Linked DNA regions of Homo sapiens: region 2 is linked to region 1. The links come from fine-mapping of genetic effects on gene expression. Tissue or cell type: nucleus accumbens. Region 1 holds a variant in brackets; the other region holds the start of a gene. All regions are shown on one strand. Distances are between the middles of the regions.

Evidence for each region.
Region 2: it holds the start of ANO7, and the variant in region 1 is fine-mapped to the expression of ANO7 in nucleus accumbens (GTEx, PIP 0.94). The same link has a PIP of 0.9 or more in prefrontal cortex.

What each region holds. Positions count from the first base shown.
Region 1 is chr2:241,213,957-241,219,312 of GRCh38, forward strand. ANO7 (anoctamin 7) reads left to right here. Exons shown (of 25, transcript NM_001370694.2): 18 at 849-946; 19 at 2,137-2,282; 20 at 3,730-3,935; 21 at 4,283-4,425. Among named protein-coding and RNA genes, the nearest start is that of ANO7, 28 kb to the left of the region's middle. RefSeq lists enhancers at 2,342-2,873, 4,981-5,080 and a silencer at 3,508-3,637. The variant C/G (reference allele first, on the strand shown) is at 2,528.
Region 2 is chr2:241,186,612-241,191,967 of GRCh38, forward strand. It overlaps ANO7 (anoctamin 7), which reads left to right and starts at 2,066. Exons shown (of 25, transcript NM_001370694.2): 1 at 2,066-2,155; 2 at 3,446-3,560; 3 at 4,583-4,640. The coding sequence starts at 3,453. It overlaps LOC105373971 (a long non-coding RNA gene), which reads right to left and starts at 1,811. Exons shown (of 3, transcript XR_924064.3): 1 at 1,665-1,811. RefSeq lists enhancers at 1-140, 1,336-2,020, 2,021-2,704, 3,638-4,138, 4,139-4,639.

The sequences.
Region 1 (5,356 bases):
GGGAAAAGTTCCCAACTCAAACTGGCTTAAACGAAAAAGGGAGTTTTCGGCCAGGCGTGGTGGCTCATGCCTGTAATCCCAGCACTTTGGGAGGCCAAGGCAGGTGGATCATGAGGTCAGGAGTTCGAGAATAGCCTGGCCAATATGGTGAAATCCCGTCTCTACTAAAAATGCAAAAATTGGCCAGGCGTGATGGCACGCACCTGTAGTCTCAGCTACTCGGGAGGCTGAGGCAGAAGAATTGCTTGAACCCAGGAGGTGGAGGCTGCAGGGAGTTTTCTTGGCTCCTGTACTGAAAACGCTCAGGGCTACGCGGGCTTAGGTATGAATGATCCAGGTGTTAAAAATGCTGCACTGCTATTCCCAGCATTGCCTGTGTTCTCAGAAAGATTATCCCCATCTGGAGGGAAGGTGCCCTGCAGTGCGGCCGACACTCTCGGACTTAGCACCCCTTGCAAGGCACGTGTTCCCAGGAACTCCACCTCCCACTGGCTCGAACTGGGTCACCGATTGGTGGGGCCTGCCTCGTGGGTCTGTCTTGAAGCCAGAGGCTACAGTCAGCCCCATGTAACCCCTTGTGGGTCTCCAAAGGAAAACTGGGGTGCCATTAGGTACATATAGCAGTGCCCCCTGCAGCTTTCCAATGCAGTCTTCCAGCTGGACCTGGGGGCTCCTGTGAGGTCGGGAGGGAGTGTTATGGTGGGAGCATCTCTGCAACCCTCCAGGTGCCCAAGGCATGTCAGGAGGGAGGTGGGGGCCGGGATGAGGGCCAGCTTTGAGACAAGAAGGGATGCGTGGGTGAGTGGCTGGTCCCCCTCTCCCAGCTAACCTGAGCCCTGCTGCCGTAGTGCGCGGCTGGAGGCTGCCTGATCGAGCTGGCACAGGAGCTCCTGGTCATCATGGTGGGCAAGCAGGTCATCAACAACATGCAGGAGGTCCTCATCCCGTGAGTCCCCCACTCCTCCCTGGGTGGCATCCAAGGACCGAGGGACCCCAGAGCACCTGGCAGTAGCAGCCTCCAGCCCGGCCCTAGCTGGGAGAAGAGGTGAAGGGAAGGCACCTTGCCTGGGGAGGGGGAGGGGGAGTGTGCCCGGCCGTCTGCCCCGGGCTCTGGGCTGCCCGCCCTGCAGCTGCCCTGTGGCTGGCTGAGGTCTTCTGGGTTGTAGTTGTGGGAGACGCTACCCCTGGGACCAGCTTTGGCTGGGGAGGGGGTCTGGGCTCCTGGACCCAAGGCTGGGGTGATGGCTCTGTCCGTTCAGAGATGCTGCGGCTGGGCCAGAGTATTCCTTGGCATCCCCAGGCCCCAACGCAGCACAAGAGGGAGGAGGAAAAGGAGGTCCCAGGGTTGATCCTCAGACACACGTCTGCCTCAGATGCCCCTGCCAGGGACACCCTGACCACAAGGCTCCCATAGCCAGAGTCCTTCAAAGAGGCTGCCCAGGGCCTCGCCTCCCGCTCAAGGCCAGACTGACCTGAACGCCCTCCCAGCGCCCCCTGAACACCTGATCTGCCCCCAGAAGGCAGCTCCCAAATCAGCACTGACATTTCTGGGCCACCAGGAATAGCAGTTGGGAGATGGTGGCCATGCCACATCCCGAGAGATGGCCCTGCCTCTTGGAACTATTGGTGCTGTGAAACCACAAGACCATAAGGTGCAGGGTGGAGCTCTGTGCCTGGCAGGAGCAGGGCACGGATGAGTGACAGTGTGATAAGGCAACATGCACACATGCCCCTGTGTAGGACGAACCCAACACGTGGGCCTCCACATCTGCTTTCCCTGGGACACCACAGTCGTCCTCGTCCACTCCCTCCCAACCTTGGCAGAGCTCTTGGCACTGCTTTGCAATTCCGGGAGGAGCCCATTACCCCTAAAGCCTTAAGGAACAATGCGGGGGGCTGGGCGGGTGGACTGCCCTCCCACATCTGACCAACAGACACAGACGCTTTCACTGAGTCCGATCTGCAAAGCTGTTGGCTCTCACTGCGTCCACCCCTCAGCCCCAGACCCCATCCCTCCCTGCTGCCCTTCAATTGCAAAGCAACAGGCTTGTCCCGGCCACATCTCCCCCAAGGACTATAGCAGCCACTGAGACCCATGTTGGATCAAAGGCCATTTTCCTGTATTCCCGTCCCCAGGAAGCTAAAGGGCTGGTGGCAGAAGTTCCGGCTTCGCTCCAAGAAGAGGAAGGCGGGAGCTTCTGCAGGGGCTAGCCAGGGGCCCTGGGAGGACGACTATGAGCTTGTGCCCTGTGAGGGTCTGTTTGACGAGTACCTGGAAATGGGTAGGAGCCCGTTAGCAGCTGCGGCAATGGCTGGCGCCGTGGGCAGGGATGGGTGGCCACTCTGCTCAAGGGCCTCCCAGCCTGACATTCCTGTGTCTGCATCTGCCCTGAAATGTGCTGTGGGGGTGGGGTGGGAACAGAGGGTCGGGCCTGTGGAGAATCCAGAAAGGAATTCTTTTCCCCTGAGAGTGCCCAAGAGGGTTGGCTGAGGACAGAGGGGCACCGGCACGGGGAGGAGGCCCCCG[C/G]GGCCGTTGCAGAGCTCCCCTGGGGTCCCTGGACCTAGAAAGCATGGGCCAGAGCAAGGGAAGAATTAGGAGAGCAGGCCCTGGGGGCTGACAGAAGTCCTCCAAGGGTGAAGCCACAGTGGGAGGCAGCGGCCTGGAGAGCCAATGTTCCCAGAAATCTCAATGCCCACGCTATTTGCAGACCTACCACTGTCACCTTACCAGGTGGTGGCCAGTGCCAGGGGCTCACTGCCTGCACGGGTGGTGCACTCTGGAGGGTGGGTCTGTATCACCTGTGCCGTCCCTGCAGTGCAGGGTCTGACTCTGAGCTGACAAAAGGGAGAAGGAATCATCAGGCAGTTTGTTTGTTTGTTTTTGTTTTGTTTTTTGAGACGGAGTCTCCCTCTGTCGCCCAGGCTGGAGTGCAGTGGCGCCATCTCGGCTCACTCCAACCTCCACCTCCCAGGTTCAAGCAATTCTCCTGCCTCAGCCTCCCGAGTAGCTGGGATTACAGGCGCCCACCACCACGCCCGGCTAATTTTGTATTTTTAGTAGAGGCGGAGTTTCACCGTGTTGGCCAGGCTGGTCTCGAACTCCTGACCTCAGGTGATCCACCTGCCTCAGCCTCCCAAAGTGCTGGGGATTACAGGCGTGAGAAACTGTGCCCGGCAGGCAGCTCTTAACCTAGCAAGCGGGCATGTGAGCCGGCAGGCCCCGGAGCTCCCCAGCGTAGCCGCGGCATCTGTGGAAAGGGAGCAGGCCAGTTCCCAGGGCGAGGAGTGGACGCCCTGACCCTCCTCCACTGAACCCTGGACCCCAATGATCTCACTAGTAATTCTCGGCGAAGACCCAGAAGCCCCTTCCAAAGAGCCCTCTCCTAACAGCTCCCCTGTGGGGTGACTGGAGAAGCTGGTTGTAAAATCAGGAGCAGGTTTCTGCCCCAACGCCTGCCCTGAGTTAGTTCCTGAGCTCACCGAGCCGGAGAAGGCCCGTGACCAGCCAGAAGCACGGAGCGCAGGGCAGGACAGCCGGCCTGAGGCCGGTCAGGAGAGGCGGCCCTGGCGCTGCGCGGTCCAGGACGAGGGAGACCAGGAGGTGGGGGCGGAATGAGCCGCGATGGGGTGGCGGCACCACGTGGACTGGCCGGTCCTCCGCGGGGGGCGCGTTCCGAGGGCTGAGGGCGGACGGTGGCGGAGAGCCCGGCCGTGACCCCCTCCCCGCAGTGCTGCAGTTCGGCTTCGTCACCATCTTCGTGGCCGCCTGTCCGCTCGCGCCGCTCTTCGCCCTGCTCAACAACTGGGTGGAGATCCGCTTGGACGCGCGCAAGTTCGTCTGCGAGTACCGGCGCCCGGTGGCCGAGCGCGCCCAGGACATCGGCATCTGGTTCCACATCCTGGCGGGCCTCACGCACCTGGCGGTCATCAGCAACGTGAGGCCCGGGCGGGAGCGCGGGGCGGGGCGGGGGCGCGCAGGGGCGGGGGCGGGGGGGGCAGCGGGGGCGCGCAGGGGCGGGCCGGGGGCAGCGGGGGCGCGCAGGGGCGGGGCTGGGGGCATCGGGGGCTCGTAGGGGCGGGGCGGGGGGGCGGCGGGGGCGGGCAGGGGCGGGGGGCAGCGGGGGCGCGCAGGGGCGGGGCGGGGGGGGCAGCGGGGGCGCGCAGGGGCGGAGCGGGGGCGCGCAGGGGCGGGGCGGGGGGGCAGCGGGGGCGCGCAGGGGCGGAGCGGGGGCGCGCAGGGGCGGAGCGGGGGCCGCCTCGCGCTGACCCCTCCGGCGCCCAGGCCTTCCTCCTGGCCTTCTCGTCCGACTTCCTGCCGCGCGCCTACTACCGGTGGACCCGCGCCCACGACCTGCGCGGCTTCCTCAACTTCACGCTGGCGCGAGCCCCGTCCTCCTTCGCCGCCGCGCACAACCGCACGTGCAGGTGAGCCCCGCGCCAGGTGGAGGGGGCCGCGGGCGCACGAGGACGAGGCGGAGCGGGGCTCGGGTGGGGTGGGGGTGCGGCGGTGGGGAGCCGGGAGGGGCGGGCGCCGCCGGGCAAGGCCGGGGGAGGGGGGGAGCTGGGGGCGCCGTGGGCAGGGGCTGGGGGGAGGTTCCCCGCGGTAAGGGACGGAGCTTTGCGGGGCTGGAGGGCAAATCGTGGATTCTAGGTGAATTGCTAGTTGGTCATAGTGTAGCAGGACGAGTCGCAGACAGAACTCCTCAGACACCGGATTAAAGAAGGAAGAGGTTTTTTTATTCGGCCGGGGGCGTCGGCAGACTCGTGTCTTCAGAGCGGAGCTCGCCGAAAAAGAAATTCTTAGCCCTTTGAAGGGCTTACAACTCTAAGGGTCTACGTGAAAGAGTCATAATAGATCAAGTAAGCGTGAGGAACGTGACTGTGGGCTACATACATCAGCTAACGGTACAAAAAGTTTTACGGTGCTTTCTCATACAGCGTCTGGAATTCACACATAACACCAGTAGTTTTGGTCAGGGGTTAATATTATTGTTATTTTAACCGCCAGGGCCAGGTGGTGGCGCCAAGGTCATCTAGCTATTTATCTTCTGTTTCTTTCCAGCTTTTTGCTTTCTTCCTTTTCTCCTGTCTTATAAACTAGGGAAAAGGGGAGGTTGGGGAGAAACTGGGAAGGACAACAGGAGAAGTGGTGGCCTCATACCATAATAGAACCTGCAGAGCAGGTAGATGTACTTCACCCGCAGTTGTGGAGACTTCCTTTGTGATCTGGTTACAATGAAGTTTTGCATGTGTTTCAATAAACTTGAAAAGCATCATAGTCTCCTAATGTTGGAGCAAATCTCAGCAGTAAAATTACGAAACCATAGGGTTATCAGTCTTTTCATATCGGTCTCTC
Region 2 (5,356 bases), 27 kb before region 1:
CAGCCTGGGCGACAGAGCGAGACTCCGTCTCAAAAAAAAAAATGTTACAGCCAAAGAAAGATGGTGCAGCAGATTCTGGGCCTGGGCTCTTCCCAAGGCCTGGAACCTGGCGGGCCCCCTGTGCTGGTTGCGGCTTTTCTCCCTCCCTCCCTTCCTTCCTTTCCCTCAGAAGTAACACAACTTGAAAAAACCACCCACCCAAACAGAGTTGTATGAAGTAAAAATGGAAAGACACTCCTCAGGGCCGAACCCCCTTTAGGTGTTGTGCGTGCACTGTCGCTGAAAGGGCTCCCACTGGGGTGTGGTCACCTCCAGCAGCCGGCCCTGAAGCTCTTGAGTAGACAGCCCTGAGGCCACCAGAGCCACTTTGTCACCAAGAGCAGAGAGCCAGGAGCTCCTGGGAGGTGGCATGTCTTCCTGGGAGGGTCCTTGGCCAATGACTGAGCAGAGTAAGAGCCTACAGTTGCATCCAGGTGAGGAAACGCTTCGTCTTGCCTCCCCTGCAGAGTGCCCATGGCAGGCTGAGGCCACCCTCCACAGGTCTTGGGGAGATGGTGCCCCGCTCATCCTCCCTCCCCTCCTGCCTCCCGACTCCTTTCCTGGTTTCTGGAGCACTTCCCCAGTCCAGCCCTCGTCCAGGGATCCACCTCAGGCGCCTGCAGGCTGAGCTTGGCCAAGCAGAGACCTCTCATGCAGATGCCCTGAGGCCCAGGGCCCCAAGGTCCTGCCGCCCAGGCTCTGCTGGTGCTGACAGGGAACCCGGCCTGCAGGGCCTTCCCGCTGTTCCGAGGCACAACACAGGTCCAAGAACAGGGCCCCTTGGGAGGTGCCAAGCACAGAGGGGCATAGGTATAAGGGAAAGCTGCAGCCAGGATGAGGGTCCGCCTGGAGGGATTTCAACAGGCAGAAGGGGGCACCTGGAACAGCAAGCTGAGCTTGGGGCTCCCCAGTGCAGTTGTGCATGGAGGGCGAGGAGCACGGGTGGTAGGTTCTCAGACACTGCCAGGCACCAAGGAGGAAAGGGGGAGGGGGAGGGAGAGGGGAAGAGGAGGGGCGGGGAGAAAGGATAGGAGGAGAAGGAGGAGGAGAGGGAGAAGTGGGGGGAGGGGGAGAAACAGGAGGAGGGGAGTGGGGAGAAAGGAGGAGAAGGAAGAGGAGAGGGAGAAGTGGGGGGGAGGGGGAGAAACGATAGGAGGAGGGGGAGTGGGGAGAAAGAGGAGGAGGAGGAGGAGTTGGGGGGAGAAATGATAGGAGGAGAGGGAGAGGGGAGAACGGATAGGAGGAGAAGGAGAGGGAGGAGTAGGGGGGAGAAACAATAGGAGGAGAAGGAGGAGAGGGAAGGTGGGGAGAAAGGATAGGAGGAGGGGGAGAAAGGAGGAGGGGGAGGAGGGCTAGGAGGAGAAAGAGGAGGGCTAGGAGGAGAATGAGGACGAGGAGGAGGGCGGAAAGGATGGGAGGAAGGCTAGGACCCCTCCTGTCCTTTTGCAGATGGGGCCCTGAGCATGGGATGTGCCTGAGGTCACCCCTCAGGCATTAGCAGAGCCAGCAGTGTGATCTGGGTCTCCCAATCTCCCCAGCCCCCGGGTGAAACCCTGGCCCACCACTCAGCACATGCTACGTAACCTCAAGGAGCCTCAGTTTCCCCCCACATAAACAGAGCTTACGAGGTCTGCCTGGCAAGGCTTCCAGCAGAGGTGGCACTTGTGGCTGTTCCTGTGGAATCCCACCTCCTCGAGACCCTCCAAGGCAGCAACTATGACAGCTGATGCCAGCCCTGAAATCTCTAAGCAAATAAGGTTCCCAGGAGGACGGCAGCATTTGCATGCGGGTGTGTGAAAGCCCAGCCAAGTGGGCTGCCTCTGTCTGCAGCTCTGAGCCCCACACCCCCTATTTAAACAAAGATAGATCCTGCTCCAGGAGCCGGGAAGCCTTGCCCTGGCCAGCTGTGCTGGGCACCTCCCCTGCCTGCTTCCTGGCCCACTTGCAGGCAAGGTGAGGGCATGCGAATGGCTGCCACTGCCTGGGCGGGGCTCCAAGGGCCACCCCTCCCCACCCTCTGTCCCGCAGTGAGGACGGGACTCTACTGCCGAGACCAGGCTCACGCTGAGAGGTGGGCCATGACCTCCGAGACCTCTTCCGGAAGCCACTGTGCCAGGTGGGGACCCAGCCTAGACGTGTGGGCCACAGGGAGAAGGTGGAGCGTTGGACTCTAGGGAGGCAGGGCGGCACCCCAGCCCACCGGGACTTTCACACACCCTGGCCTGTGGGGAGGCAGTGCCAGGGCCCGCCCTGGTCCCCAAAGCCCCTTGGGGCACGAGGAGGGACACACACTCAGTGCGGCTCTGGACGGGGTACACCCAGCTGGGGTTGGCTTCCTGCCTGCCCAGGGGCTCCCCCATGGAGCAGGTCCCTTCGTTGGGGTGGGGGGCATCCCCATTCTTTCTGCAGAGAGCTCTGAGGAGGGGCCCGCCTGCCCACCACAGAAGGATGGGGGCATGAGGGGCTGCTGGGTGGCCGAAACTCCTCGGGGACTTTCCTCCAGGAACACCCCACAGTCCGTAGTGAGGCTCCCAGCCTGGGGCCGGGGCCGAGTCCTAACACTGAGACCTGGCTCGGGCTTCAGGGTTAGGCAGGTGCAGGCGGCCCAGGCTCAGTCTCTGTCCCTCTGGGCCTCCGCTAATGTGAAGTGAAGGGTAGAACTAGAAGGCTGCCCCTCCGACCTCCTGCGGCGCCTCCATGGTCACACCCTCCGGTCATCGTCGCAGCTCCAAATGCCAGCCCCAGCTCGAACCCTCTCCTTCCAGGGCCACAGATGTCGTGCTCCTGGCCCCGTTTTGCCAGCCCAAGACTAGGAGCCACGGCACCTGTCCTCCCACAGAGAGAGACCCCCGGGGCGAAGGTGCGGGAGGAAGCTGGGACCCCCAAGAGTTGTGAGGCCGGGCTCCATCAGGCCCGCCTTGCTGGGGAGCTCAGGGCCTATGGGTCCTGGCACTGGGTCCTCAGGCCATGAGCGAAGGCAGGCGACTTGAGGGGTTTCCTGTCCCTGGCTCACATGGCTCCACCCTACGGATAAGAGAGGGAGAGGTGTCTGTACTCCAGGCCCACCTTTCTGGGCCTTCTCAGGCTCCACTGAGTACCCAGGCAGAGTGGACGGCATTCAGGGCTGGGGGACACGGGCACTCACTGGATGGACAGACAGACGCCTGCTGTGCCAGGCCTGCCAGACGCTCCCGCCCCGGCACTGGTTTCTTCCTGGAGCTCGTGGCTGGCTAGGGGGTTCTCCATGTGCTCATGGCCAGGAGAGTCTGCCGAGCCAGCCCAGCCCCATTCTACTCCGAGTCGAGTCTGTAAAGTGAGCTCACTGCAGGCAGTGTGGTGGCCCCAGGAACGGGTCTCACCCATCCCCTCTCTGACCCCCATCCCCACCCGGCCTTGCTGGGTGCAGGAGCAGGATGCTGCGGCGACGGGCCCAGGAAGAGGACAGCACCGTCCTGATCGATGTGAGCCCCCCTGAGGCAGAGAAGAGGGGCTCTTACGGGAGCACAGCCCACGCCTCGGAGGTAACAGCACCCAGGAGACTGTGGTGCGACTTGAGAGGTCCTCCCCTGCCTGGGTCTATGCCCCCACCCTGGGCCCAGAGCCTCTGGGGGTGGATGGGCATCACCGTGTTTCTCCTGCATCCCCCGGCAACCCCCAAGCCCTCGCCACCCAGTCCTCAACACACACAGTCAGATCACCGCTCTCCTGGCCTGGCCTGGCTGTGGAGAACCGAGCAGAACCCACTGATGTTCAGACAGGAGCTCCAGGAGGGTAAGGGGGGCCTGGCCAGGCAAAGGCAAGACCAGGGCGGGGCCCTCCCTGTGGTGTCAGTCCCAGTCAGTGCAGGGCCACAGCAGCACCCAGGGCCATCTGTAGGGCTCCACCTTGTCACTAGGAGGCCATGGATGCGCTGTGAGCCTGTGGGGAGAGGCTGGGTCCCGGGCCTTCAAGGCCATGCGGGAGGCCCTGGCCGTGGAGGGCCCTCTTCCTGGTTCTCCTGGGCCACACGTCTGCCCCAGCAGCCTGCGGGTGGACACGGGACCCCTTCCTGCCGCCCCAAGCACAGCTGAGATGAGCCTCCAGGGAGGGCACAGGGCCTCTCACCTCAAGCATCCAGACACTCTCGGTCGCCATGGCCAACTCTGTCCTCAGGGCCCCTTTGGGAGCAGTCCGGCTCCCCTCTGCCCCTGGAGGCCAGCAAGGCAGGCACCCCTGGTCCTGGCCATGCTTCCCGCCAACCTGACCCTTGCCATGGGCCTGGCCCAAGGAGGAGGGGAGCCGGCTGGAGGCCCAGGGCTGGTGGTGCCCTCTGGCCCTGCCTGCCGCTCCCCGCGCCTGCGCATCCTGTGCCCCCACACAGCAGAGGGGCTTCCCCCTCCACCCCCTACCCACCCGCCGAACATTCTTCTGTGGTCCTGAGTGTTCTGGGGCAGGGCGGGGACGGGTTGGAGGCGAGGACGGCTTCAGGGTGGGGCGGGGTGGGTGTAGTTGTCGAGGGCAGATGCTGATGCTGATATGCTTCTCCATCCTCCATGCCTTCCAGCCAGGTGGACAGCAAGCGGCCGCCTGCAGAGCTGGGAGTCCTGCCAAGCCCCGGATCGGTGAGCCCCTCCCAGCACCTGTACCACACCCGTGTTGGTCCTGAGGGTGGGGACACCACGGGGGTGCCCCCAGGGGCAGCAGGCTGGGGTAGCCTCCTCAGTAGCCACTCTGGGGCCAGTTGCTTGGGGATGGGGCACTGGGGTGAGGGCCTCGGGGTGAGCAAACCACAGTGGGAAGAACAGCAGGAAAGGGGGCTCCCTACTGATGGGGTGGGGCCGGAAGGGCTCTGGAGAGTGGACAGGGCTGCCCCCTCCCTCCTGCTCCAGTCCCCTCCACCATCCTCCAGCTGTTCAGCCACAACTCAGGTCATTTCTGACTCTTATCTCTTGCACTCCACCCCTTTTGTACCTTCAAAATCTCTTTGATCCACCCCCAACCCACTGCCTCTGTCTGCCCGGAGCTACCACCGACTCCAGGGGATTGCACCAGCACCAGCCGGGCTCCCAGCACCCACCCCGCCCACCCTGCTGTCCCCTCAGCACCAGAGAGACCCTAACCTCCTCCCACTAGGATGGCTACTACTTAAAAAAAATCACAAGTGTTGATGAGGATGAGCGGAAACTGGCTCACTTGTGCATTGCTGGAGGGAGTGTAAAATGGTACAGCTGCTAAGGAAAACAGCAGTTCCTCAGAGAATTCAGCACAGAGTTCCCGTAAAAGCCAGTATGTCTTCCCTGGGTGAGCGCCCACGAGCACGGGATGGGGGCCCCGGGGA